Regions from separate parts of the Homo sapiens genome. Here all the other regions are linked to region 1. Evidence: fine-mapped expression QTL. A gene starts in region 1. Each other region holds a variant in brackets. All regions are shown on one strand. Distances are from middle to middle.

What was found. PIP is the estimated chance that this variant, and not a neighbour inherited with it, causes the effect.
Region 2: its variant is fine-mapped to the expression of ZNF8-DT in transverse colon (GTEx, PIP 0.97).
Region 3: its variant is fine-mapped to the expression of ZNF8-DT in minor salivary gland (GTEx, PIP 0.96).

What each region holds. Positions count from the first base shown.
Region 1 is chr19:58,273,946-58,282,123 of GRCh38, forward strand. ZNF8-DT (ZNF8 divergent transcript) reads right to left here and starts at 4,797. Exons shown (of 3, transcript NR_187495.1): 1 at 4,578-4,797. It overlaps ZNF8 (zinc finger protein 8), which reads left to right and starts at 5,010. Exons shown (of 4, transcript NM_021089.3): 1 at 5,010-5,202. The coding sequence starts at 5,137. It overlaps ZNF8-ERVK3-1 (ZNF8-ERVK3-1 readthrough (NMD candidate)), which reads left to right and starts at 5,021. Exons shown (of 7, transcript NR_144447.1): 1 at 5,021-6,664. It also overlaps a transcript of ZNF544 not described here. RefSeq lists enhancers at 5,086-5,135, 5,556-5,605.
Region 2 is chr19:58,179,386-58,187,563 of GRCh38, forward strand. ZNF274 (zinc finger protein 274) reads left to right here and starts at 3,676. Exons shown (of 8, transcript NM_133502.3): 1 at 3,676-4,057; 2 at 4,536-4,613; 3 at 6,327-6,453; 4 at 7,562-7,657. The coding sequence starts at 4,581. RefSeq lists enhancers at 3,287-4,000, 3,669-4,088, 4,001-4,712, 4,339-4,528. The variant C/T (reference allele first, on the strand shown) is at 3,500.
Region 3 is chr19:58,331,661-58,339,838 of GRCh38, forward strand. It overlaps ZSCAN22 (zinc finger and SCAN domain containing 22), which reads left to right. Exons shown (of 3, transcript NM_181846.3): 2 at 3,092-3,545; 3 at 6,594-8,178. The coding sequence starts at 3,143. The coding sequence ends at 7,666. It overlaps MIR6806 (microRNA 6806), which reads left to right and starts at 3,028; the gene lies at 3,028-3,091. RefSeq lists an enhancer at 6,851-7,352. The variant T/C (reference allele first, on the strand shown) is at 4,210.

The DNA of each region.
Region 1 (8,178 bases):
CCACCACACCCGGCTAATTTTTGTATTTTTAGTAGAGACGGGGTTTCCCCATGTTGGCCAGGATGGTCTCGAACTCTTGATCTCATGGTCTGCCCACCTCCGCCTCCCAAAGTGCTGGGATTACAAGTGTGAGCCACCGTGCCCGGCTCCTAAACAGTTTTTGTTTATGTAGGTCCTATCAATATTTGGTGTATTAGGAATTAAAACGGAAAAAAATTAATATATTTTATTAATATAATTTTTCAAAATCTATTCTATGTTAATATATAGGTTGAGCTGTGTCTCTTCCCAAAATTGATATGTTGAAGTTCTAACCCATAGTACCTCAGACCTTATTTGGAGACAGTGTCTTTAAAGAGCTGAAATGAGGTCATTAGAGTGAGCCCTGGTCCATTATGACTGTTGTCCTTATAAAAACAGAAATTTGGAGACAGACAACTTGTCACGCATACAGGGAAAATGACATTTGAAGACAAAGTCAGACATCTACAAGCCAAGGAATGCCAGAGATTGCCAGCAAACCACCAAAAACTAAGGAAAGGGATGGAACATATACTTTCTTGTAGCCCTCAGAAGGAACCAACTATGCCAACACTTTGATCTCAGACTTCTGGCTTCCACAACTGTAACAATAAATTTATGTCGTTTAAGCCACCCCATTTGTGGTATGTTGTTACCAGAGCCCTCATGACTAATACAACATATTTTTTAAAAAGCACCTACTTTACGAAAAACAGCATTTTCCAAAACAGAAATAGGGAGAAGAGTGGCATTGTATTATATTTTTTCAAATCTCCTTAATGTCTGGCTTCACTTAAGGCAGTTGAGTTCCCATAGCTCCATGTTCCCATTGCATCTGTTACAATATGACTCATCCAGCAGCCTCTGGAAAACTCTATTGTATATTCCTATGAAAATGAGAGAGGAATAGCACTGGGTAGTCCAGGAGAATGGAAAAACCCAAACGACAACTAAAACAAGCAGTAGGCAAAGAAACCACAGAATAACAAAACCCAAAATAAGGGAGAGAAGACAGCCAAAACCCTGGTCAGGGTGACAGGTCCATGACTCTTCCAGGCAAACCCAAATAAGGGAGAAAGGGGGTGGTAACTGGGGTGGGGCAGGGGGAGGGTGGTGCCTGAAATCCCCTCCTTTTCCAGATACCGAATGACTATTCCACCCATAATTAAACACCCATAAAATGAGAAATGCAAACAATGTTGGGTGTGACTCAGGAGCCAGGAGCCCCCCCACACTTGTCTCCCGTGTTTCCTTTCACTTTGCAATGAAAGCTTCTTGCCTTTCTGCTTACTCTGACTTATCCCTGAATTCTTTCCTGTGATGGCTTCAAGAACCTGGACACCAACTGGCACTGGCATCCGGTGACCTTCCTGAGCCCTCTGGCAACAAAAGAAAAAGCCAACATCTCATTATTATTATGAATTTAGTTTTGAACCCACCGATCCCTTGAAAGGATCTCAGGAACGCCCAGGGCTCCCTGACCCACACTTTAAGAACTACTGCAATAGACAAACTCCTACCTTATAATCAAGGAGATAAACAAGAACTAGAAAAGAAAAAAAAAATAGGCTGGGCACCGTTTTTGTAATTCCAGCACTTTGGGAGGCCAAGGCGGATGGACTGCTTGAAATCAGGAGCTCAAGACCATCCTAGGCAACATCACAAAACCCTGTCTCTACAAAAAATACAAAAATTAGCCAGGCATGGTAGCATGAGGCTGAGGTGGGAGAATCCCTTGAGCCCAAGAGGTTGAAGCTGCAGTGAGCTGTGATCACACCACTGCTCTCCAGAGTGGGCAACAGGTGAGACCCTGTCTCAAAAAAAAAAAAAAAAAAAGGAAAGAGGAAATAATAGGACATCAAAATCACAGATTCCACACCATTAGAACTAGGAGGAAAGCTGAGCCCAGTGACTGGCTCCAAAATGAATACACAGGGCCGGGTGCAGTGGCGCATTCCTGTAATCCCAGCACTTTCAGAGGCTGAGGCAGATAAGATTGCTTTGAGCTCTGGAGTTCAAGACCAGCCTGGGCAACATGGCAAAATCCAGTCTCTACAAAAATTGGCCCAGTGTGGTGGCTCTCACCTGTGCTCCCAGCTACTCAGGAGGCTAAGGATGCAGGATCACTTGAGCCTGGGAAGTGGAGGTTACAATGAGCCAAGATTGCAGCACTGCATTCCAGCTTGGACAACAGAGTGAGACCCTGTCTCAAAAAACAAATAAACAACAAAAAAAGAACACACAGGTTTCCCCTAAAGAGAATAGATCTTTGCACACCTGCCCCTACCTCTCCAACACTGGTGGCCACTGTGCAGGGGAAGGCAATAGATCCTCCTAGTACCTTCTCTGCCTACAGAGAAGGGGATGCTGCCTGGGAGCTTTTTGGGACTCCCAATAGAAGACAGATTTAGTCTCCTGGAAGGCTGCCTGATCCAGTTCCCACAGCAGCTGCCACTTGCTCAGGTGAGTGAAGACATCTGTCAAAAGTCAGAATTTTATTTTTATTTTATTTTATTTTTGAGATGGAGTCTCACTCTGTCGCCCAGGCTGGAGTGCAGTGGCGCAATCTCAGCTAATCGCAACCTCCGCCTCCCAGTTTCAAGCGATTCTCCTGCCTCAGCCTCCTGAGTATCTGGGATTACAGGTGCCCGCCACCACACCTGGCTAATTTTTGTATTTGTATTAGAGACAAGGTTTCACCATGTTGGCCAGGGTGGTCTCAAACTCCTGACCTCAGGTGATCCACCCACCTCAGCCTCCCAAAGTGCTGGGATTCACTCACAGGCGTGAGCCACCACACCCAGCCAAAAGACAGAATTTTAACAAATTTGGTTAAAGATCGAATTGGCTTTTATTTGTGATTCATGAATCTGGGCAGCCTCCACTCTGCAAAACGGAATGAGAGCTCCCACGGGGCAAATGGTAGAATAGTGGTTTTTGTAAGATAGAGAAAAGGCTAATTAGTTAACACTAGGTTACTTTTCTTGTAAGGATTAAAGCAGAGGGGACTTCCTTATTATGCTGCTCAGGTAGACTGGAAATCTGGTTTGTTTAGGGATCTACCTGCTTAAAGTATCAGTCTGATTATGTGGCATTTAGCCTAAGTGACTCTGTCTTGGTTTGGTCTGGTCTCATGAGGCCTAGAGCAGGAGCTCAGTCCAAAACCATGTCCTCTCATAATTTTGTGTAACTTGCCTAACACCTGCTCCTTCTCAGGAACGAGGCCCAGCAAAAAGCAGAGACGGTACAGGGCCAGAAGGATCTGAGAGAGTGTGGCCAGCTTGAGCCCTCAGGAGTCGGCCAGAAGGATCTGAGAGAGTGTGGCCAGCTTGAGCCCCTCGGGAGTCAGCTCCTCCGTCCCCACTGGTAACGTCTTCACCCCTTCAACACGGTGTGAAGGGCCATGTCATGGTTGATCTTCAGTCCCTCAGACTACACCATCAGCCCCATGGGGGTGAGCAAATAACAAGTAACTATACTGTTCCCTGCTATGTGTCTGGCTCTTGGTAAAATTTAAAAAAGTTAAAAATTGTTGTGGTTTGAATGCAACATTTTTGAATGGAAATCTGCTTCCCCATTTTTCTTTTTTAATAACTTTTTATTTTTTTTTTGAGACGGAGTCTTGCTCTGTCACCCAGGCTGGAGTGCAGTGGCCTGACCTCGGCTCACGGCAACCTCCGCCTCCCAGGTTCAAGCGATTCTCCTGCCTCAGCCTCCCGAGAAGCTGGGACTACAGGTGCCCGCCACCACGCCGGGCTAATTTTTGTATTTTTAGTAGAGACGGGGTTTCACCATATTGGCCAGGTTGGTCTCGAGCTCCTGACATCGTGATCCACCCGCCTCGACTTCCCAAAGTGCTGGGATTATAGGCGTTAGCCACCGCGCCCGACCTTTAATAAACATTTTAATGGACTACAACAGACCCACAGAAAAAGACACATCACAAAGTGAACACCCACAGGGAGAAGCAATAGGGCTGTCAGAGGCATTCGACCCAGAGCGACTCCATTTTGAGTGAGGGCTAGGAAAATGAGGCTGGGCTGCATTCCCAGAAAAGTAGGTATTCCTAACCTCTAGATGTTTACGGTTAAGGGAACAAATTAATAATGGGTACTAAAACAGACCCAGACTTGGGAGTGTCCAGATATCCCGGTATCTAGAGAACAAAGGCATTCCTAATTTTGCTTTAAAAATAATATCGATTCTTGAAAAATACAGTAAGAAAATTAATCCTTTTTCACAAACCCTTGTAGCAGAGCACATCTCCCCAAAATCTATTTTTAGCCCAAATATACACAAGCATTGTACCTAGGGTGCATACGTTCCTCTTACTTTCAGGAACGTCCTACTGTCTATGGGGTAGCTGTTTCACAACTTTACTTTCTCAACAAACTTGCTTTTACTTTGCACTGCGGACTCGCCCTGAATTTTTTCTTGCGCGAGATCCAAGAACCCTCCCTTGGGGTCTGAATCGGACCCCTTTCCTGTAACACAACCACCGCTCCCAGCCTCCCCGCTTCCAGCCGCTAAGCCCAAAGTCTTTTATATGAACAAACCTCTAACTCGTCCTGTGACTTTGATGCGTGTGCGTTTTAGGCACCGGGGAGCAGAGGGTAAAGCGGCGCAGCTCCGGGCCTCCTCCCGCGCAAGTTCCCGAGAAGAGCAGGTCCGGCCCGCGCAGACGTGCACGGTCCCCAGCCATTAGGAGGAGCAGACGGTCCCCACCCCCACAATCAGTCATCTCTCGGGGTCCGCCCTTGCTTCCTGCCCACGAGTGAGGCCTCTGGTTGCCCGCAACCTAAGGGGCATCGCAGCCCCGAGCAACACCGCCCCCACCAGCCTTAGCTGAGTGCTCCCATTGGCCAGAGGCCAGCGGGTGGGGGCTCCCATTGGCCATCGGCCATAATGCTTCCATTGGTCGAAGGCCAGACCAGCGGAGACTCCCATTGGCCGAGGGCTGTGGTTCGCCGCACGGCCTACTGGGAGTTGTAGTCGCCGCGTCGCCGGTGCGGCCGCCATTGTCCGGCGTTCGGCGAGTCGGGTGGTCCCTTTGGCTGGAGTGCCTCTCTGGTCTGGGGATCACCTCAGGCGCTGTCCTTCACTGGGCGATCCAGCATGGACCCCGAGGACGAAGGGGTAGCGGGAGTGATGTCTGTGGGGCCGCCGGCGGCCCGGCTTCAGGTAACAATAACAACAATAACGACGGCGGCGGGCTCCGGGCAAGCGTCTCCCGCGCAGACTGACCCTTTCACCTCGCGGCGCGATGAGAGCGGCACCGCTGTTAATGCCCTTGACACGTGGGGAAACTCAGACGCGGGTCGGGGCGTGGTGACCGTCCTGGCTGGTCAGAGAGGGGGCCGGGATTCCAACCAGGCGCCTGGCCCCCGAATGCGCATGCTCCACGCGGCTCTGTCCTCCCCAGGGCTGGGGTCGGTCATTCCCGAGAGAATCGAGCAGGCCCATCTCCTGCGTTCTGCTCCGCCCCGCCGACACCCTTGCCCATTCCAGGAAGGTCTGTCCTCGTGTTGACTGATAACAGTAATTGTAGCGTTGGCCGGGTGCCCAGATGGCAAGAATCATCGAATAGAGATGCTTTAACGCGTGGAGTCAGCGGACACCCACCGGGACCCCAGCACCGCGGAGCCCCTGCCCTGGGGCTTGGGCACAACCTCTTGGGGGCAATGATGGGTCACCACGCACTGAGTGTGATGAGAGTGACCACCAGGGTCGTCCCCTGCGAGACTGTGGGAGAACTGCAGTGCAGGGCGGTCAGTGTTTGCAGGGCCATCTGGCCATCAGAGCTCCACTTTCTAGACAAAGTGGTTGCGGCCTGTGTTCTCCATAAAGCTGCCTCGCGTGGCAGGAAACAACAATAATTATCCTTCCTCAAGCTCTGCAACTTTGAAATTATACTTTTTTTTATTTTTTGTCGTTGGTTTGTTCATGGGGATTTGCATTATTTCAGATTTGGTACACAAAGTGAGACTTGATAATCTTAGGTTGCAGGTTTTCAGATGTGTGTTGCTCCAAATTTGCATGAAATGCTACCACGTTTTATTTTGTTCTTGCTGTGGATGGGGGACAAGGAATGAGTCGTAAGAAAGGCTTGAGAGAAAGTGTATTAGTTACCTGTTGCTGTGTAACTCAAAACTTCGTGACCTGGAACAACAATAAATATCTCACGAGTTCTGACAGGAGTAATGGAATGTCCTAGCTGGTGGTTCTGGTTCAGGCCCATGAAGTTACAGTGAAGATGTCAGCATAGCTGTTGTCACCTGAGACCTGAGTCTGGAGGATCCACCTCCAGGATGGCTCACTCACATGTCTGTTGATAGGAGACCTCAGTTGTTCTCCATGTAGGCCTCTCTTTGGAACTGCTAGGGATCCTTGCAACATGGCATCTGGCTTCCCACAGAACAAGTGATCCAGGAGAGGGCAAGGTAGAAACTGTAACACCTTCCATGACCTGGATTCAGAATTCACACTCTTGTCACTTCCACGGTGTCTTACTGGTTACAAAGTCAACCTTGTTGAGTGTTGGAGGGGACCACACCAGGGCTGGAGGTCATTGGCAGAGGTGGTGGGGGAGCATCTTGGAGACTGTCCATCACAGGAGACAAGGACCAGAATGGAGAGCTTCAAGGTCCAGTGTTTTATCTGGTTATCTGTGTCTGCTGTAACAATTCACTACAAATTTTGTGGCTTAAAACATTTGTTCTTAGGTTCTGGAGGTCAGAAGTCTGAAATCGGTTTTCTGGTCTGGAATCAAGGTATGAGCAGAGCTACCCTCCCTACCAAGGTTCTAGGGTAGAATGTTTCCTCGTCTTTTCCAGCTGTGAGAGGTACAGACCTTCTATTCCTTGCCTCATGGCCCTTTGCCTGTCTTCAAAGCCTGCATTGTAGCATGTTGCTTCAGTGATCATATTGCCTTATGTCTTCTATAGTCATAGCTCCCTTTGTCTACCTCTTATAAAGACACTTGTGATTGCATTTAGGGCCCACCTGGATAATCCAGGATAATTTTTCTGTTTGAAAATCCTAATCACATCTGCACAGTTCCTTTTACCATATATAGTAATATTCACAGGTTCTAGGAACTAGGACCTGGATATCCTTGGAGGCCATTATATATCTCAGTCTACCATAGCCAGGCTGAGAGGAGCCATCCAGTATTCAGTGATGAGAAGGAGCCATTCACGTGTTTTAAGCAGGACTGGCATAGGGTTGAAAAAATCCACTTATGCATTAGGGGCTGGTGGGAAGGGAGATACTGGCAGCTCAACTAAGGCAGTGGGAAAAAGAGAGGAGTGGTTAGGCCCAGTGACCAGGTGTTGGCTGATGCTGGGGTGAAAAGAATATGTAAAGGAGAAACATCAGAGCACAGCCCCACCCCTTCAGGCTCCAGAAGTGCAAGACAAGAGGGAAGGCTGCAGGGATCTGATGTAGGGCAGAAAGAACATCATGAGACAACAAGGAGTGGGCTTCTGCTAGAATTCCAAGAAGGAAGCCAAGAGGAGGCATGAAGGACTTGTATGATGCCACTGAGAATTCTCATGGCTTGGACAGACCAGTACTCAGTGGACGTGGTGTCTAGGCTGTCACCAGTGACTCTTGCAGAATGGGTGATGATGGGAGGTGGGGGCAGGAGGCACGGGAAGCACAAATCAAAATTGGTGGGCATTCTGAGTGGAGGAAAGCGAAGACACAGAGACAGGAGCAGAGACCTCAGTTCCCAACCAAAGGCATCTTTCTGTATGTTTCCTATTAGAGCCACCTGCTACCTGTACTAAAATTTCTTTCTTATTTTTTAATCTACTCATGTTTTTCTTAAAAGGAAATGTCCTTTTAAAATTGAAGTATTTGGGGCCTGGTGCAGTGGCTCATGCCTGTAATCCCAGCACTTTGAGAGGCCACAGCAGATGGATCACTTCAGGTTAGGAGTTCAAGACCAGCCTGGCCAACGTGGTGCAACCCCATCTCTACTAAAAGTACAAAAATTAGCTGGGTTTGGTGGCACATGCCTGTAATCCCAGTTATTTGGGAAGCTGAGGTGGGAGAATCACATGAACCAGGGAGATGGAGGTCGCAGTGAACCGAGATTGCACCACTGCACTGCAGCCTGGTCAACAGAGTGAGGCCCTGTCTCAAAATAAAAAA
Region 2 (8,178 bases), 95 kb before region 1:
GCTCACTCCTGTAATCCCAGCACTTTGGGAGGCCAAAATGGGCAGATCACCTGAGGTCAGAAGTTCGAAACTAGCCTGACCAACATGGTGAAACCCTGTCTCTACTAAAAATATAAAAATTAGCTGGGCGTCGTGGCATCTGCCTGTAATCTCAGCTATTAGGGAGAATGACGCAGGAGAACCGCTAGAACCCGGGAGGCAGAGGCGGAGGTTGCAGTGCCATTGCACTCCAGCCTGGGCAACAAGAGCAAAACTCCATCTCAAAAAAAAAAAGCACATGGAAAAATATTAATATATTTAAATAACTCAGTATCTCAATAAACCTATGCCTGACTATGTGGAATATATATATATTTGAGATGGAGCCCCCTTTAGTAGAGACGGGGTTTCACCATGTTGGCCAGGTTGGTCTCGAACTCCTGACCTCAGGTGATCCACCCACCTCAGCCTCCCAAAGTGCTGGGATTACAGGTGTGAGCCACCGCACCTGGCCCTATGCAGACTATATTAAGAGAGAAAAAGTAAAAATTAAACTTTGCAATTGAATGAAATAACTACTATTTCTACAACACACATTTTCACTTATGATCCATAATGCCTTCTATGTAATTCAAAATTCCAGATATTTTCTAACAGAAAATTTCTCCCTGTTATGAGTCTGCAAAATTTATATGAACAAGGCTATTTATATTTTGTCTCTCTTCCACCTAGTGTAAATCTTCTTGTATTTTGCTACAGATATACTCATGTGTTTGATGGCAGGTGCTACCCCACACCTCTTAGGGATTTACACACTGTATGGTGTAAATACATTACCATCCTACTAAAATCCAAATGATCATGAATTCCAAAATACATCTGGCTCAGAAGGTTTTGAACAAGCAATCGAGGCACTGTCTAAATCCAACAACGATGAATAAATTTTTTCAACATTTTACATGTTTAATAGTTAACATTTCTTCAGAAGTCATTTTTATTTTACAAATTACAATAAACAGCATATTTAATTTGCTAAACAGGAAAAGAGTATGCAGTTATTAAAAGTTGAATTAAAATGGCTCTCATAAATCAATCTTCAATAATATGCTTATATAAAACCATCTTTAGGTTGGGCACAGTGGCTCAAGCCTGTAATCCCAGCACTTTGCGGGGCCGAGGTGGGCGGATCCTCTGAGGTCAGGAGTTCGAGACCAGCCTGGCCAACATGGCAAATCCCCATCTCTACTAAAAATACAAAAATTAGCCGGGCATGGTGGCACGCCCGGCTACTCAGGAGGCTGAGGCAGGGAGAATCACTTGAACCCGGGAGGCAGAGGTTGCAGTTGAGCCGAAATCACGCCATTGCACTCCAGCCTGAGCGAAAGAGCGAGACTCTGTCTCAAAACAAAAAAAAAAAAACAAAACATCTTTGGTCAGGCATGGTGGCTCACGCCTGCAATCCCAGCACTTTGGGAGGCCAAGGCGGGAGGATTGCTTGAGTCCAGGAGTTCAAGACCAGCCCTGACAACACACTGAGACCTCATCTCTACACAAATATTTATTAAAAATTAGCCAGGTGTGGTGATGCACACCAGTAGTCAGTCCTAGCTACTTGGAAAGCTGAGATGGGAGGAACACTTGAGCCCAGGAGGTTGGGCCAGCAGTAAGCCATGACTGCAGCACTGCTCTCCAGCCTGGGCAACAGAACAAGACCCTGTCTCAAAAACAAATTCTTTTAATCAAAAATCAGGTTTTATCCTATACCACATAAATAGAAAGAAATCATTAGAAGAATTTCCACCTGCCTGGGCAACATAGTGAGGTTTCTGTCTCTACAAAAAAGTACAAAAGAGGCCAGGCGGGGTGGCTCATGCCTATAATCTCAGCACTTTGGGAGGCTGAGGTGGGCAGACTGCCTGAGGTCAGGAGTTCGAGACCAGGCTGGCTAACATGGAGAAACCCCGTCTCTACTACAAATACAAAAATTAGCCAGGCATGGTGGCACACACCTGTAGTCCAAGCTACTTGGGCAGCTGAGGCAGGAAAATCGCTTGAACCCAGGAAGCAGAGGTTGCAGTGAGCCGAGATTGTGCCACCTCACTCCAGCCTGGGCGACAGAGCAAGACTCTGTCTCCAAAAAAAAAAAAGCCAGGTGTGGTGGTGTGCACCTGTCCCAGCTATTTGAGAGGCTAAGGTGGGCGGATCACTTGGGCCCAGGAGGTGGAGGCTGCAGTAAGCTGTGATCGCACCAATGCATTCCAGTCGGGGTGACAGAGCAAGACCCTGTCTCAAGAAAAAAAAAAAGAAAGAAAAAAAAGAATTTCCAAGGGGGTTTGCTTCCTTGTGATTATGAAGGGCTAGACGTATCCTATTCAAATCCAGAACAAAACAAGACTATTAGTAAACATGACTACTTAACATAGCTCTGTCATACTAGCTAGGACTATACAATGTTAATTTTTTAAAGTTGAAATATGGAAAAAGAAGATATCAAATTACTTATTAATTGGGGATGGTGTTGTATCTATAATAGACACGAAAAATCCAATGAAATATTATTAGACTATAAGATATCTGCACAGTCTCTGAGTAAATACTCCTATGCCAAAATCAACACACTAACAGCAACAATTAAACAATGTGTAGCCTGAGGTTGGATCCTCCACAGTGACCAAAAAAACCAACAACCCGTGGAACAAGTTTAGCAGGCAGTGTACACGACCACCAGAGGGAGGCAGAGGGCTGCTGAGACCTGCCAGGAAATATCAAGAAAGAGGACACAGGGTCCTGAGCACTGAGAGAGATCATTAGGGCCCTCAGGTCCCAAGAAGACAAGACCATACTGGGACCTGGGACCTAAGGAAGATAAGAAAACACCAGATGTCGGTCCTTGAGGAAGCCAAGAGAATACCTCCTTGTCCTGAGCTCCCAAGGAAGATGAGAGCACCCTGGGCCCAAGGATGGGTGGCACACACCAGGTCCTGGACAGCTACAGACTTAGGTTTCCTCTCCCTAGACATGAGCACCTCAGCTTCCAGGAGCAAACTGGACCACAGGGGGACACTAGGCAGAGGATCCTGCTCCTCCTCCCCAATGCCTGGGGTACAGTTAGCCCTGATCATCTCTCCAGAACTAGGGTAGACGTTTGGCCTCATTCCCATCACACTTGTGGTCCACCTAGTCTTCCCTCCTTCCCCTTGCACACCCCTGACCTTCCTACTCCCTTCCTCTAATCCCCAGAACTAGGGTGGACGTTTGGCCACGTTCCCATCACACTTCCGGTCCTCCGAGTTTCCCTCCCCTCCCTGACCTTGAGTGGACACTTGGCCCTGTCCACCCTCACTTTCAGGCAGGACCCATCTCCCAGAAACATAAGTGCCGTCAGTCCCAACTCCTGCACACTTCCGGCTCTCCCAGTCCTCCCCTTCTTTCTCGACTTTGAAACTGGTGGAACTTCAGTACCTCTCCCCACTCCCCCCGCGACTTCCGTCTTCCAGTCCCCCTCCTTCCCCAAAAGTTG[C/T]GTGGACTCTAGCCCCGCCTCCTACATTCTCCCCGCCCTCCCTGTCCCCGCCCCTCCACCCAGATGGACGGCCAGTTAGGCCCGCCCCCTGCACTTCCGGCCCTACCCGCCCTTCCTCTTCCCAAGGGACGTCATAATTAATCCCGCCCCCACCGCCACCCAACCAAGCATCACCCATTCCAGCACTTCCGGCCTGACCCCTGTCCAGCGCCTTTCCTTTCTCCAGCTTCTGCTCTGCCCCAAGAGTGGTCGCCTTCGTGGCAGGGCACGACTCTCTCCCAGCTCGGGTCGCCGCCCACATTAGTGTGGGGCCCTGCGGCCTAGCGTCCCTCACCAGAGGCCTCCCCTTGCCTAGCTGGACCGCCGAGGGACATCGACGAGTATCCTCCTCCTGCTGTCCCCGGCTTCGCCTGCCGCCCCTAACCGGCCAGTCAAGATGGCCGCCGCTGGGTGAGGCAAGCTGGCGCGCCGCGGGGGCGTCTGGGAGTTGTAGTTCGGGACGGCGGGCTGACGCACTTCGCCGCCGGCCGACGGGCGCCATTGTGCGGCGCGCGCCGGGTGAGTGCCGCGCGAAACCTGCGTCCGTCGGGGGCTGCGCTGGGCGGGTCCAGAACCGTTAGTTGGGGGCGAGCGCGGCCTCTGCATTTTCCGCCGAGCTCGGGTACCCTGAGCCGGCCGTGCCTGCAGTCCTCCCGCCGCTCTGTGGGATGGGGTCGGTGACCCGGAACCCCGAGGGGAGACAGTGCTTTCGGGGCGCCGCGGTGGAGAGAACAGATCGCCTCCGGAAGCGTGGGGTCTGGGCCAGGGAGGCGATCCCCTCCGATGCGCGGGACAGAGGAGGCTCGGTGTCCTCTCGGGGAGGGGAAAACTGGTCCTATCCAGTCCTGTGGGAGTCCTATGACTCACTCTGGGCGTTTTCCAGTTTGGGTGGACTTGTCATTTCCCGCTGAGGGAGCCGTTCCTGGGCGGAGGCTGCGGTAGCTCCCCAGCGGACACCTTAAGCCTCTCCCTCCCCTCCCAACTTCGGTTTCCTCAGGACTCTGCCCACTTCCACCAGAGACACATTGAGAAGGAGGAAACTATGGCCTCCAGGCTTCCGACGGCCTGGTCCTGTGTGAGTAGAGGCTTCCTTCAGCTTTTGAGTCCGCTACTGCACCTGGGAGGATGCGGATGGTGGTGAGATACCACCTTCCCTGAGATACCCCCATCCTCCAGAGCACCTCGGGGAGGGGGTAGAGATTGGTTGGGCATGAGAGATCCTGCGTGATGGTGGAACCGCAGGTTGCTTGGTTTTCCAAGGGTGTAGTTAGAATAGAGACCAGATTGTAGGGGCTTCTGAAGGCCAGGTTAAGGCTCTTGCTTGTATCCTTTATATTGGGAAGAGTAATTGACAGGTCTTTTGTTTGTTTGTTTTTTGTTTTTTGAGATGGAGTCTCCCTCTGTCGCCCAGGCTGGAGTGCAGTGGCGCGATCTTGGCTCACTGCAACCTCCGCCTCCTGGGTTCAAGTGATTCTCCTGCCTCAGCCTCCCCGAGTAGCTGGGACTACAGGCGTGTGCCACCATACCCAGCTAATTTTTTTTTTATTTTTATTTTTTGTGTGTGTTTTTTGTGGAGACGGGGTTTCACCATGTTGGCCAGGCTGGTCTGGAACTCTTGACCTAAGGTGATCCGACCATCTCGGCCTCCCAAAGGTCTATGCAGGGATCAGGCTTATGTTTAGATTTCAGCAGATAAATTGGCATCAAGCAAGAGGTGACAGCAGCAGAGTTCAATAACAAGTAGAAAAGACAGGTGAGGATGGATCCCTGACAGGTGAAGGAGATAGAAAGAAGCATCAGGGCCCTGGGTAGGGGCTGACGGCTTGGGTGTGATGGTGCAGCTCAGAGAATTCCCTAGGAGGCATACGCACCACTCCCAAAGTCAGAATTTTCAAATGAATAAGAAATAGGGGGCCGGGCGCGGTGGCTCACGTCTGTAATCCCAGCACTTTGGGAGGCCGAGGCAGGTGGATCACGAGGTCAGGAGATTGAGACCATCCTGGCTAACATAGTGAAACCCCGTCTCTACTTAAAAAAATACAAAAAATTAGCCGGGCGTGGTGGCGGGCGCCTGTAGTCCCAGCTACTCGGGAGGCTGAGGCAGGAGAATGGCGTGAACCGGGGAGGCGGAGCTTGCAGTGAGCCGAGATGGCGCCACTGCACTCCAGCCTGGGCGACAGAGAGAGACTCCGTCTCAAAAAAAAAAGAAAAGAAAAATAGGGCCGGGTGCGGTGGCTCACATGTGTAATCCCAGCACTTTGGGAGGCCGAGGCAGGCAGATCACAAGGTCAGGAGTTCGAGACCAGCTTGACCAACATGGTGAAACCCCATCTCTACTAAAAATACAAAAATTAGCCGGGCATGGTGGTATGCGCCTGTAATCCCAGCTACTCAGGAGGCTGAGGCAGGAGAATCGCTTGAACCTGGGAGGTGGAGGCTGCAGTGAGCCAAGATTGCGCCACTGCACTCCACTAGGAGACAGAGTGAGACTCTGTCTCAAAACAATAAATAAATAAATTAAATAAATAAATAAATAAATAAAATGGACAGATTTTCATATGCTACAGAGATCTCATGTGTTGCTCTCCTTATTGTAACCTGAATAGAGTCAAGCTTGGGTTTGCTTGGGGTTTCAGACAAAGACAGGAACTCAGGATGAGACTCCCAAAATGCCCTTGGGTCATCTTGTAGACCATTCTGTGCTTTCACTGGCCTGGTCAGCCTCCCCTGTCTTTCTTTTGTCGTGGATGCGGATGGCCTGTGGCTGAACAAGAATCTGGATTTTTAGGAACCAGTGACCTTTGAAGATGTAACACTGGGTTTTACCCCGGAAGAGTGGGGACTGCTGGACCTCAAACAGAAGTCCCTGTACAGGGAAGTGATGCTGGAGAACTACAGGAACCTGGTCTCAGTGGGTAAGGCTGGCCTCCAGGTCAAGAAGGATCTGTGCTTTGTAGCACAAATGTAGCACCTCTGAAGTATGTGTCTGCTTGGGCTCACACTGCAGGGGCACCAGTAGGAAAAGGGCAGCTTTTCAGTATGACTTCTGAATCATTGCCTAGTCCATCCCTCCCTGAATACCAGGGAGATGGGTCTGTCAGGGATGTTTTCAGCTGCAGTAGTGGATGCTTATTGTTCTTGCAACAAGAGTTCCGGCCAGGCATGGTGGCTCACTTTAGGAGACTGAAGCAGGAGGATTGCTTGAGCCCAGGAGTTTGAGACCAGCATGGGCAACATAGACCGTGTCTCTATTAAAAAAAAAAAAAAAAAGAAACTCCACAGAAATTCCAGACAATGCGATGCCAGTGTCCCAACAGCTTAGGAGTAGCATCAAAGAGCCTGTCCCTGCCAGGCACGGTAGCTTACGCCTGTAATCCTGGCACTTTGGGAGGCTGAGGCAGGCAGATCAGTTGAGGTCAGGAGTTCTAGACCAACCTGACCAACATGATGAAACCCTGTCTTTACTAAAAATACAAAAATTAGCCGAGCACCCCAGCTACTCAGGAGGCTGAGCCAGGAGAACTGCTTGAACATGGGAGGTGGAGGAGATTGCAGTGAGCTGAGATCAGATCACAGCACTCCAGCTTGGGCAACTGAGCAAGACTCCGTCTCAAAAAAAAAAAAAAAAAGCCTGTCCCTTCAAACTCTGGTTATTGTGAACCTTTCCATGTTCCCCCTAGTCATTGCACAGCTGTGGCTCCAAGCATTGCATCTGTGTTCAAGGCAGAAACAAGGAGAAGGGGTAGCCCTTTCACAGCTGTCATGTTTAACCAGAAAGCAAAAGCTTTCCCAGCTGACCGATCTCCCTTTGTGTCTGGCTGACCAGAACTGGACCCCTTAGCTGCTTGGCAAAGGAGTCTAGGAAAGCCAACAACAGGGATGGATGGAGTTGTGTTCACTGCTCTAGGCCAGAAGTCATGTGCCTTAGCAGGGGAGAAGCTGGAGACGGCTTGTGCTGCAGTAGGATAGCATTTTCTCCTGAACACAGACCCCCACAAGCCCTGTCTCTTTTCCTTTGAGCAGAACATCAGCTTTCCAAACCAGATGTGGTATCTCAGTTAGAGGAGGCAGAAGATTTCTGGCCAGTGGAGAGAGGAATTCCTCAAGACACCATTCCAGGTGAGAACCAGACATGGGAAGCCCCCACAGGGAAGGGGCCAACTGATGAGTCAGGGACCAGTATCTTGGAAAAGCAGTAGACATTGGGATACCCCAGGTGGGATGCTGTGATGAGCAGTTGCAGAACCAAACTCGAAGTTTTTCTCTGGCTCCACAGTCAGCAGTGTCCTACTTGGTTGAAAGTGAACCTGTTGCTGGTGGCAGGTGATACTTGTGTTGACAGTAGGGGCTCCCTTAGTCTGTTACACGCATTGTCTACTGCCCTCCCCTCATAATCACTGGTAACCCTGGTGTGTATTTCCAGCCAGACTTTCTTATATAGGCTTACGTGAATGTATGTGAATATATATACACATTTTGGGGGTGTTATAATACAGACAAGTCAGCTTCTTTTTGTTTTGGAGACAGGGTCTCTGTCACCGAGGCTGGAGTGCAGTGGCATGATCTCAGCTCACTGCACCCTCCGCGTCCTGGACTCAAGCTGTCCTCCGACCTCAGCCTTCCAGGTAGCTGGATCTATA
Region 3 (8,178 bases), 58 kb after region 1:
CAGCCTCCTAAGTAGCTGGGACTACAGGCACACGCCACCACGCCCAGCTAATTTTTTTGTATTTTTAATAGAGACGGGGTTTAATCATGTTGGCCAGGATGGTCTCGATCTCTTGACCTTGTGATCGGCCCAGCTTGGCCTCCCAAAGTGTTGGGATTACAGGCATGAGCCACCGTGCCTGGCCAACATTATTTTTTTAAAAGCTGTATTTTTATTTTATTTTATTTTTTGAGATGGAGTTTCACTCTTGTTGCCCAGGCTGGAGTGCAATGGCAGAATCTCGGCTTACTGCAGCCTCCACCTTCCAGGTTAAAGGGTTTCTTCTGCCTCAGCCTCCCAAGTAGCTGGGATTACAGGCATGCACCACCACGCCCGGCTGATTTTGTATTTTTAGTATAGATGGGGTTTCTCCATATTGGTCAGGCTGGTCTTGAACTCCTGACCTCGTGATCTACTCGCCTCGGTCTCCCAGAGTGCTGGGATTACAGGCGTGAGCCACCGCGCCTGGCCTCCAGAACATTTTTATCATCCCCAAAAGAAATTCCCAAACCTATTAGCAACCACTCTCATTTTTGTCTCTCTTCAGCCTCTGACAAACACTAATATGCTTTTTTTTTTTTTTTTTTTTTTTGAGATGGAGTCTACCTCTGTCGCCAAGGCTGTAGTGCAGTGGTGTACTCTCGGCTCACTGCAACCTCTGCCTCCCAAGTTCAAGAGATTCTCCTGCCTCAGCCTCCTGAGTAGTTGGGATTACAGGTGCCTGCCACCACACCCAGCTAATTTTTGTATTTTTTAGTAGAGACGGGGTTTCACTGTGTTGGCCAGGCTGGTCTTGAACTCCTGACCTCAGGTGATCTACCCACCTCGGCCTCCCAAAGTGCTGGGATCACAGGTGTGAGCCACCGTGCCCTGCCGTGTCTTTCTTCTTTTACTTAGCATCATGTTTTCAAGGTTCATCCATGTTGTAGCATTAATCAGTACTTCATTTCTGTTTATGGTGAATAGTGTTCCATTATAGGTATATACAGCATTTTATCCATTCATCAGGTGGACATTTGGATTGTTTCTCCTTTTTTGCTGTTATGAGTAATGCTGTTATGCACATTTATGTATAAAGTTTTGTGAGGACATATACTCATTTCTCTTGGGTCTATACGTAGGAGTAGAATTGCTAGGTCATGGGGTAACTCTGTTTAAGCTTTTGAGGAACTCCCAGACTGTACTTCCCACAGTGGCTATCCCATCTTACATTCCCAGCAGCAGCATATGAGGATTACAGTTTCTCCATATCCTTGCCTACACATGTTATCTGATTATAGGCATCCCAGCAGGTGTGAAGTGCTATCTCATTGTGGTTTTCATTTGCAGTTCCCTGGTAGCTAGTGATGTTAAGCATCTTTTCATGTATTTATTGCCCATTTGTGTATCTTCCTTGGAGAAATGTCTAGTCACATTCTTTGCTCATTTTAAAATTGTATTATTCATCTTTTTACTATGGAGTTGTTCTAGATACAGGTCCCTTATCAAATATATGATTTGCAAATATTTTCTCCCACTCTGTGGGCTGCTTTTTTACTTTCTTGATGTGGTCCTTCAAATCACAAAAGCTTTTAATTTTGATAAAGTCCAGTTTATTTATTTTTTCTTTTGTTACTTATGCTTTTGGTGTCATAGCTAAGACAGCTTTGCATTATTTTCAAGTATTCATGGAACATTAACCAAAATTAACCATACACTGGGTCACAAACCAAGTTTCAGCAAATTTTAAATGATCGAAATCCATTGTAGCATGTTTTCTGACCACAACAGACTTAATCTAGACATCAGTAATAAAAAGACAACTAGAAAACCCCCAGTTGTTTGGCAATGAAGCAGGAGAGTTTTAAATAAATAACCAATGGGACTGGGCATGGTGACTCATGCTTGTAATCCCAGCACTCTGTGGGGCCGAGGCAGGCAGATCGCTTGAGGTCAGGAGTTCGAGACCAGCCCCGCCAACATGGCAAAACCCCGTCTCCACTAAAAATACAAAAATTAGCCTCACATGGTGGTGCACACCTGTAGTTCCAGCTACTTGGGAGGCTGAGGCAGGAGGATTGCTTGAACCCGGGAGGCGGAGTTGCAGTGAGCCGAGATAGCGTCACTGCCCTCCAGCCTGGGCGACAGAGGGAGACTCCGTCTCAAAAAAATAAAATAAATTTTAAAAAATAATTAATGAGTAAGGTAGAAATTGTAACAGAAATTAGAAAATATTTTTAACTAAATGATAATGAAGATACAACATATCAAACTTGTGATGTATAGCTAAAGCTGTGTTTAGAGAGAAATTTATAGCCTTAAATATGTGCATTAGAAAAGAGGAAAGGCGAAAGTCAATTATGTATCAATCTCAAACACTACAAAATAATTAGCAAGTAAAGTGAGAGAATGACCATGTGGCTACCTGGGGAACAGAGGGAGAAAGACTTGGCTCTGTTGGGGAGGAGCACGCCTTAAACAGGCTGGCTGTAGGTTTGCGTGGGTTTGTAGCTTAGCTCTCTGTTAACCCTTCACTAGCTGAGGGACTTTGGGCAAATATTTTCCTCCTGAGTGTCTGTTTTTCCATCCATAAAATAGGTAGAAAGTCCCACCTCCTGAGTTTGTTGTAAGTTTTTTGTTTGTTTGTTTTTGTTTTGAGACAGAGTCTTGTTCTGTTGCGCAGGCTGGAGTGCAGTGGCGTAGTCTCGGCTCACTGCAAGCTCCGCCTCCCGGGTTCACGCCATTCTCCTGCCTCAGCCTCCTGAGTAGCTGGGACCACAGGTGCCCGCCACCACGTCTGGCTAATTTGTTTTGTATTTTTAGTAGAGACGGGGTTTCACCATGTTAGCCAGGATGGTGTTTGTTGTAAGTTTTAAATGAGTCTACATGCAAGCAGTAGTAGCTTAGAACAGTGCTCAGCACCAAGTGGGTGCTGTCCTAATTATGAGGATTGTCTATGTCTTTGTGAGAGTCTTTCACATCTCACGGGCCACAAGCCTGTGTTTTCCCTGCTCTGTAGGCATGAGGCAGGGCCCAGGTTCCATGTGATGCTGAAGCTCTGACATTCCTGCAGGCCCAGTTCCAAGGCTCCGGCATCCTGTGTCTCACTGAGCACTGCTGCCCGATGGCCATCCCCAAGCACTCCCTGAGCCCAGTGCCGTGGGAAGAGGACAGCTTCCTTCAAGTGAAGGTGGAGGAGGAAGAGGAAGCCAGCCTCTCCCAGGGCGGAGAATCCAGCCATGACCACATTGCTCACTCTGAGGCTGCACGCCTGCGCTTCCGGCACTTCCGCTATGAGGAGGCATCTGGTCCACACGAGGCCCTGGCCCACCTCCGAGCGCTGTGCTGTCAGTGGCTGCAGCCCGAGGCGCACTCCAAGGAGCAGATACTGGAGCTGCTGGTGCTGGAGCAGTTCCTGGGTGCGCTGCCCCCAGAGATCCAAGCCTGGGTGGGAGCCCAGAGTCCCAAGAGCGGAGAGGAAGCCGCTGTGCTGGTGGAGGATCTGACTCAGGTGCTGGACAAGAGAGGTAAAGGGGCGCCGTGGGCAGCTTCACGGCACACCAGAGATACACCCTGGACAGGAACATGGGAGCACAGGGCTCTGGTTTGGGGTTGCTCATGCACCCATTCTCACATTTGTACTTTACCGTAACTCTCACACACTGTTGTAGACAGGTGTGTTTTGGTTGCAGGTGACCAAAAGCGAGCTGAAATGGGCTGAAGCAAAGAAGGGTAAGGAGGCAGCAGATACGGCTATATCCAGAAGATCTGTTGACAGCATCAGAACTCTCTTCTTCCTCTCTTGTTCTGTTTCTCAGTTGGTTTTTTCTGTGTTAGCTTCATTCTTATTTTAGGTTCTCTTTCCAAAGGGGTTAAAGATAGCCAGGAACCCCAGGCTTATGTCTTACCAATGTAGAAACCCCGGGGTAATAACAATAAGAGGTCCCTGGTCTGAGCCCCCACTGGCCTGGTTGGGATCTTATGTTTGTGTTTGGCCAACCAAATCCCAGGGACTAACAGTGAGCAACTGGCTGTTTCTCAGAGGAAACCAGACGAGGGCCTGGGTGCCTGGGGTGGCTGTTGGGGGTGACGGAAATACCAGATGTCCCTGTGTACCTTCTCTATGCCCACCCTGGGCTGGCCTCCAGGATTTGGGTGGGTCAGACCTGCCCCAGGCTCAGCTGGGCACTG[T/C]TACTCACAGAGACCCACACAAACATCCCAACCCAGGGAGGTCCAGTGGGATGCAGGGAAGACCCAGCCTTGGGACAATCCAGAGCAGGGAGTGGTGGCTCGTCTCAGATGGGCTTGGCCTGGCCTATTGGCAACAGATAGGAGGTGGGCATACCACACACTGGGAGGAAACGTGCAGTGTGCAGGAGGAATGTGGAGTCTGGATACAGCTGCATCATCAAGGCTCAGTAGATCCAACCGCTGCTGCTCTTCCTGGCCATGTGACTCCCTTGTGCCTCAGTTTACTCATGGGTAAAATGGGGATTGTAATAAAAACGCCCACCTTAGTGGTGTTGCGAGATACAAGGCAATACCCGTGCAGCACCTGAAATGGTGCCTGGCACAGATTAAATAAATGGTAACTGCAACTGTTAGGATAATTTGTTCAGCTCTGGGAGAAACAGGCCTCTCTGGAACAGAGGTTGGTCTATGCCCAAGCAGATGTCACAGAGACAGGGAGAGGAAGGAGGGAGTGGCCCCATCCTCCCACAGGGTTGGCCAAAGCTCAGAGAAAGGGTAAAATGCAGAGGGAATGGTGGGGTCAAAGGCCTGGCAGTGTGATTTGCACTGGTGTATTCTGGTAAAAGCAGGTGGTGTGATGTTTCTGGATAGAGGAAGGAAGGGGGAGACAGGGCCAAGCAGATGGCTGGGGGAGCAGGGGAGACTGCCTGTGGACCTGGAGGAGAACATTCTGGAGCTGAAATCCCAACTGGGCCACTAGCTAACTGTGATCCTGTACCAGTTACTCAACACCTTCCCTCAGCTGGATTTCAGTTTCCCCATCTGCAACAGAATCACAGCAGTACCTCCTTCTGAGAGCAGGTCGAAGCTGAAATGAGGCGATGGAAGTCACCCACTGTGCTTGGGGCCCAGCACGACAAGAGCCTGATAGTGGTTAGTGGCCCTGGAAGGCCAGCGGCACAGCATCCATGGCTTACAGATGGGGAGACTGAGTCCCAGATGAGGGCAGGACTGATTAAGGTGGTAGACCTGGGGTTTGAGTCCAGTTTCTGCACTGCTGAGCCCCACTGTGGACTTGAGCAGTGGGTATTCCACCTGTCTCTGCCTCCTCCCTGGAATCCATCCAGTAGATGTGCCAGATTATGTGTCCTTTGCACCCATGCAGGGCAGGTCAGTGCGAGCATTCCTCTACCTCATGCACACTCTGATCTCCAAGAGCACCTCCGCCACACTCTGCCTTCATAGTACTTTACAATGTAGGGGCTTGAGAGGCCAGATGGGTACCTCATGTACTCACCCCCAGCAGCCATATTCTACCTGGGGTTCTACTTGCAGAAATTTTCACCATCGTGGGCTTCTGGATGGATTCCCTCATTCAGCCAGAATTCACTGAGCACCTGTGGACACATCCAGGCCTAGAGGCAAGGTGTTGAGTGTGAGGGACAGAACCGCAACCTCACAGAGATCAGAGCCTGCAGGGGACACATCCAGGCCTAGACGCAAGGCGTTGAGTGTGAGGGACAGAACTCCAACCCCACAGAGATCAGAGCCTGCAGGGGACACATCCAGGCCTAGACGCAAGGTGTCGAGTGTGAGGGACAGAACTCCAACCCCACAGAGATCAGAGCCTGCAGGGGACACATCCAGGCCTAGACGCAAGGTGTCGAGTGTGAGGGACAGAACTCCAACCCCACAGAGATCAGAGCCTGCAGGGGACACATCCAGGCCTAGACGCAAGGTGTCGAGTGTGAGGGACAGAACTCCAACCCCACAGAGATCAGAGCCTGCAGGGGACACATCCAGGCCTAGACGCAAGGTGTCGAGTGTGAGGGACAGAACTCCAACCCCACAGAGATCAGAGCCTGCAGGGGACACATCCAGGCCTAGACGCAAGGTGTCGAGTGTGAGGGACAGAACTCCAACCCCACAGAGATCAGAGCCTGCAGGGGACACATCCAGGCCTAGACGCAAGGTGTTGAGTGTGAGGGACAGAACTGCAACCCCACAGAGATCAGAGCCTGCAGGGGTGCATGTGCTCAGGGTCCTGACAAGGACAGACCCTCCCTCTCTCTCTGTCTCCAGATCAGTTCCACATCAGGGTTTCTCCTCTTGACTCTTGAGCCAAAATTGGGAGCCTTGAAAGATGGCGAGTTTGGTGGGAGGAGGAGAAATCAGAACCCATGGTGTAGTTTTGGATGGTGTGGGAGGACAGCCCTGCACCCTTTGTCATCCAAGACACCAAATGAGAAACTTCCCCTTGGAACTGGGGCCAGATGTTAGGAACGGGCCACATCTCCCCTTACAAAGTGTGACCGGGGCCCTCGGCAGAGTAGGGGAGGCTTGGTGTGGTAGGAGGAGTGACAGTGTGGTTCGGACTGTTTCAGGATGGGATCCAGGAGCCGAGCCCACAGAGGCAAGCTGCAAGCAGAGTGACCTGGGAGAGTCAGAGCCATCAAATGTCACTGAGACCCTCATGGGAGGTGTTTCCCTTGGACCCGCCTTTGTCAAGGCATGTGAACCTGAGGGCAGCTCAGAGAGGTCTGGACTATCAGGGGAGATCTGGACAAAGTCTGTCACCCAACAGATCCACTTCAAGAAAACTTCAGGGCCTTACAAGGATGTCCCCACAGACCAGCGTGGCCGTGAATCTGGTGCCTCGAGGAACAGTTCTAGTGCGTGGCCAAACCTCACCTCCCAAGAGAAGCCTCCTTCAGAAGACAAATTTGATCTGGTGGATGCTTATGGGACAGAGCCTCCATACACCTACTCAGGGAAGAGGTCCTCCAAGTGTCGCGAGTGTAGGAAGATGTTCCAGAGTGCTTCGGCGCTCGAGGCACACCAGAAGACCCATTCTCGGAAGACCCCATATGCCTGCAGCGAGTGTGGGAAAGCCTTCAGCCGGAGCACTCACCTCGCCCAGCACCAGGTTGTCCACACAGGGGCGAAGCCCCATGAGTGTAAGGAATGTGGGAAGGCCTTCAGCCGAGTCACCCACCTGACTCAGCACCAAAGGATTCATACTGGAGAGAAACCCTACAAATGTGGGGAATGTGGTAAAACCTTCAGCCGCAGCACTCACCTCACCCAGCACCAGCGGGTGCACACGGGGGAGCGGCCCTACGAGTGTGACGCGTGTGGGAAAGCCTTCAGCCAGAGCACGCACCTGACTCAACACCAGCGCATCCACACCGGGGAGAAGCCCTACAAGTGTGACGCGTGTGGCCGAGCCTTCAGCGACTGCTCAGCCCTGATCCGACATCTGAGAATCCACTCTGGAGAGAAGCCATATCAGTGTAAGGTTTGTCCGAAGGCCTTTGCACAGAGCTCCTCCCTCATTGAGCACCAGAGGATCCACACGGGAGAGAAGCCTTATAAGTGCAGCGACTGTGGGAAGGCCTTCAGTCGTAGCTCAGCCCTGATGGTTCACTTGCGGATCCACATCACGGTGCTGCAATGACCGGAAGTCGCCCCTGGGGGCGTAGCACAGCGTCTTCTCGGAGGCTCGAGGTCTAAGAGAAACGCTGAGTTCCTGAAGAGCCACAGACAGGGTGGGTGATTGATGAGTTGTCAAAATGATAGGTGCCTGAGGGCAGACTCGGGCTGTCTAGGAACCACTCTGCATTTGAGGAACCCTGATGAGCACAAGGTGATTCAGGCCAGCTGGAGAAGCTTCCAGAAGGGCCCTGCACTGCTACCCTCTATTTCCCACTCAGGGCTGTCCCAGAGAGAAGGCAGCCGAACTGAGGATTTAGACTGGTTCTGAGGGCCAGGGCAAATGAAGGCGCATGTCTCTCAGAACTCAGCGTCCCAAGACGCTCTGGGCGGGCCAACTGTAGCTTGTTCTCATGTGGTTCTTCTTGCCTGCTTTTCTGCTGCTTAGCCCAGAACGGACACCTGCCATGCCCACCTCTGTGCCTTGGCACCTACTATTTCCACTCCAGACTATTTTGTGCCTAACTGCAAGGCTGA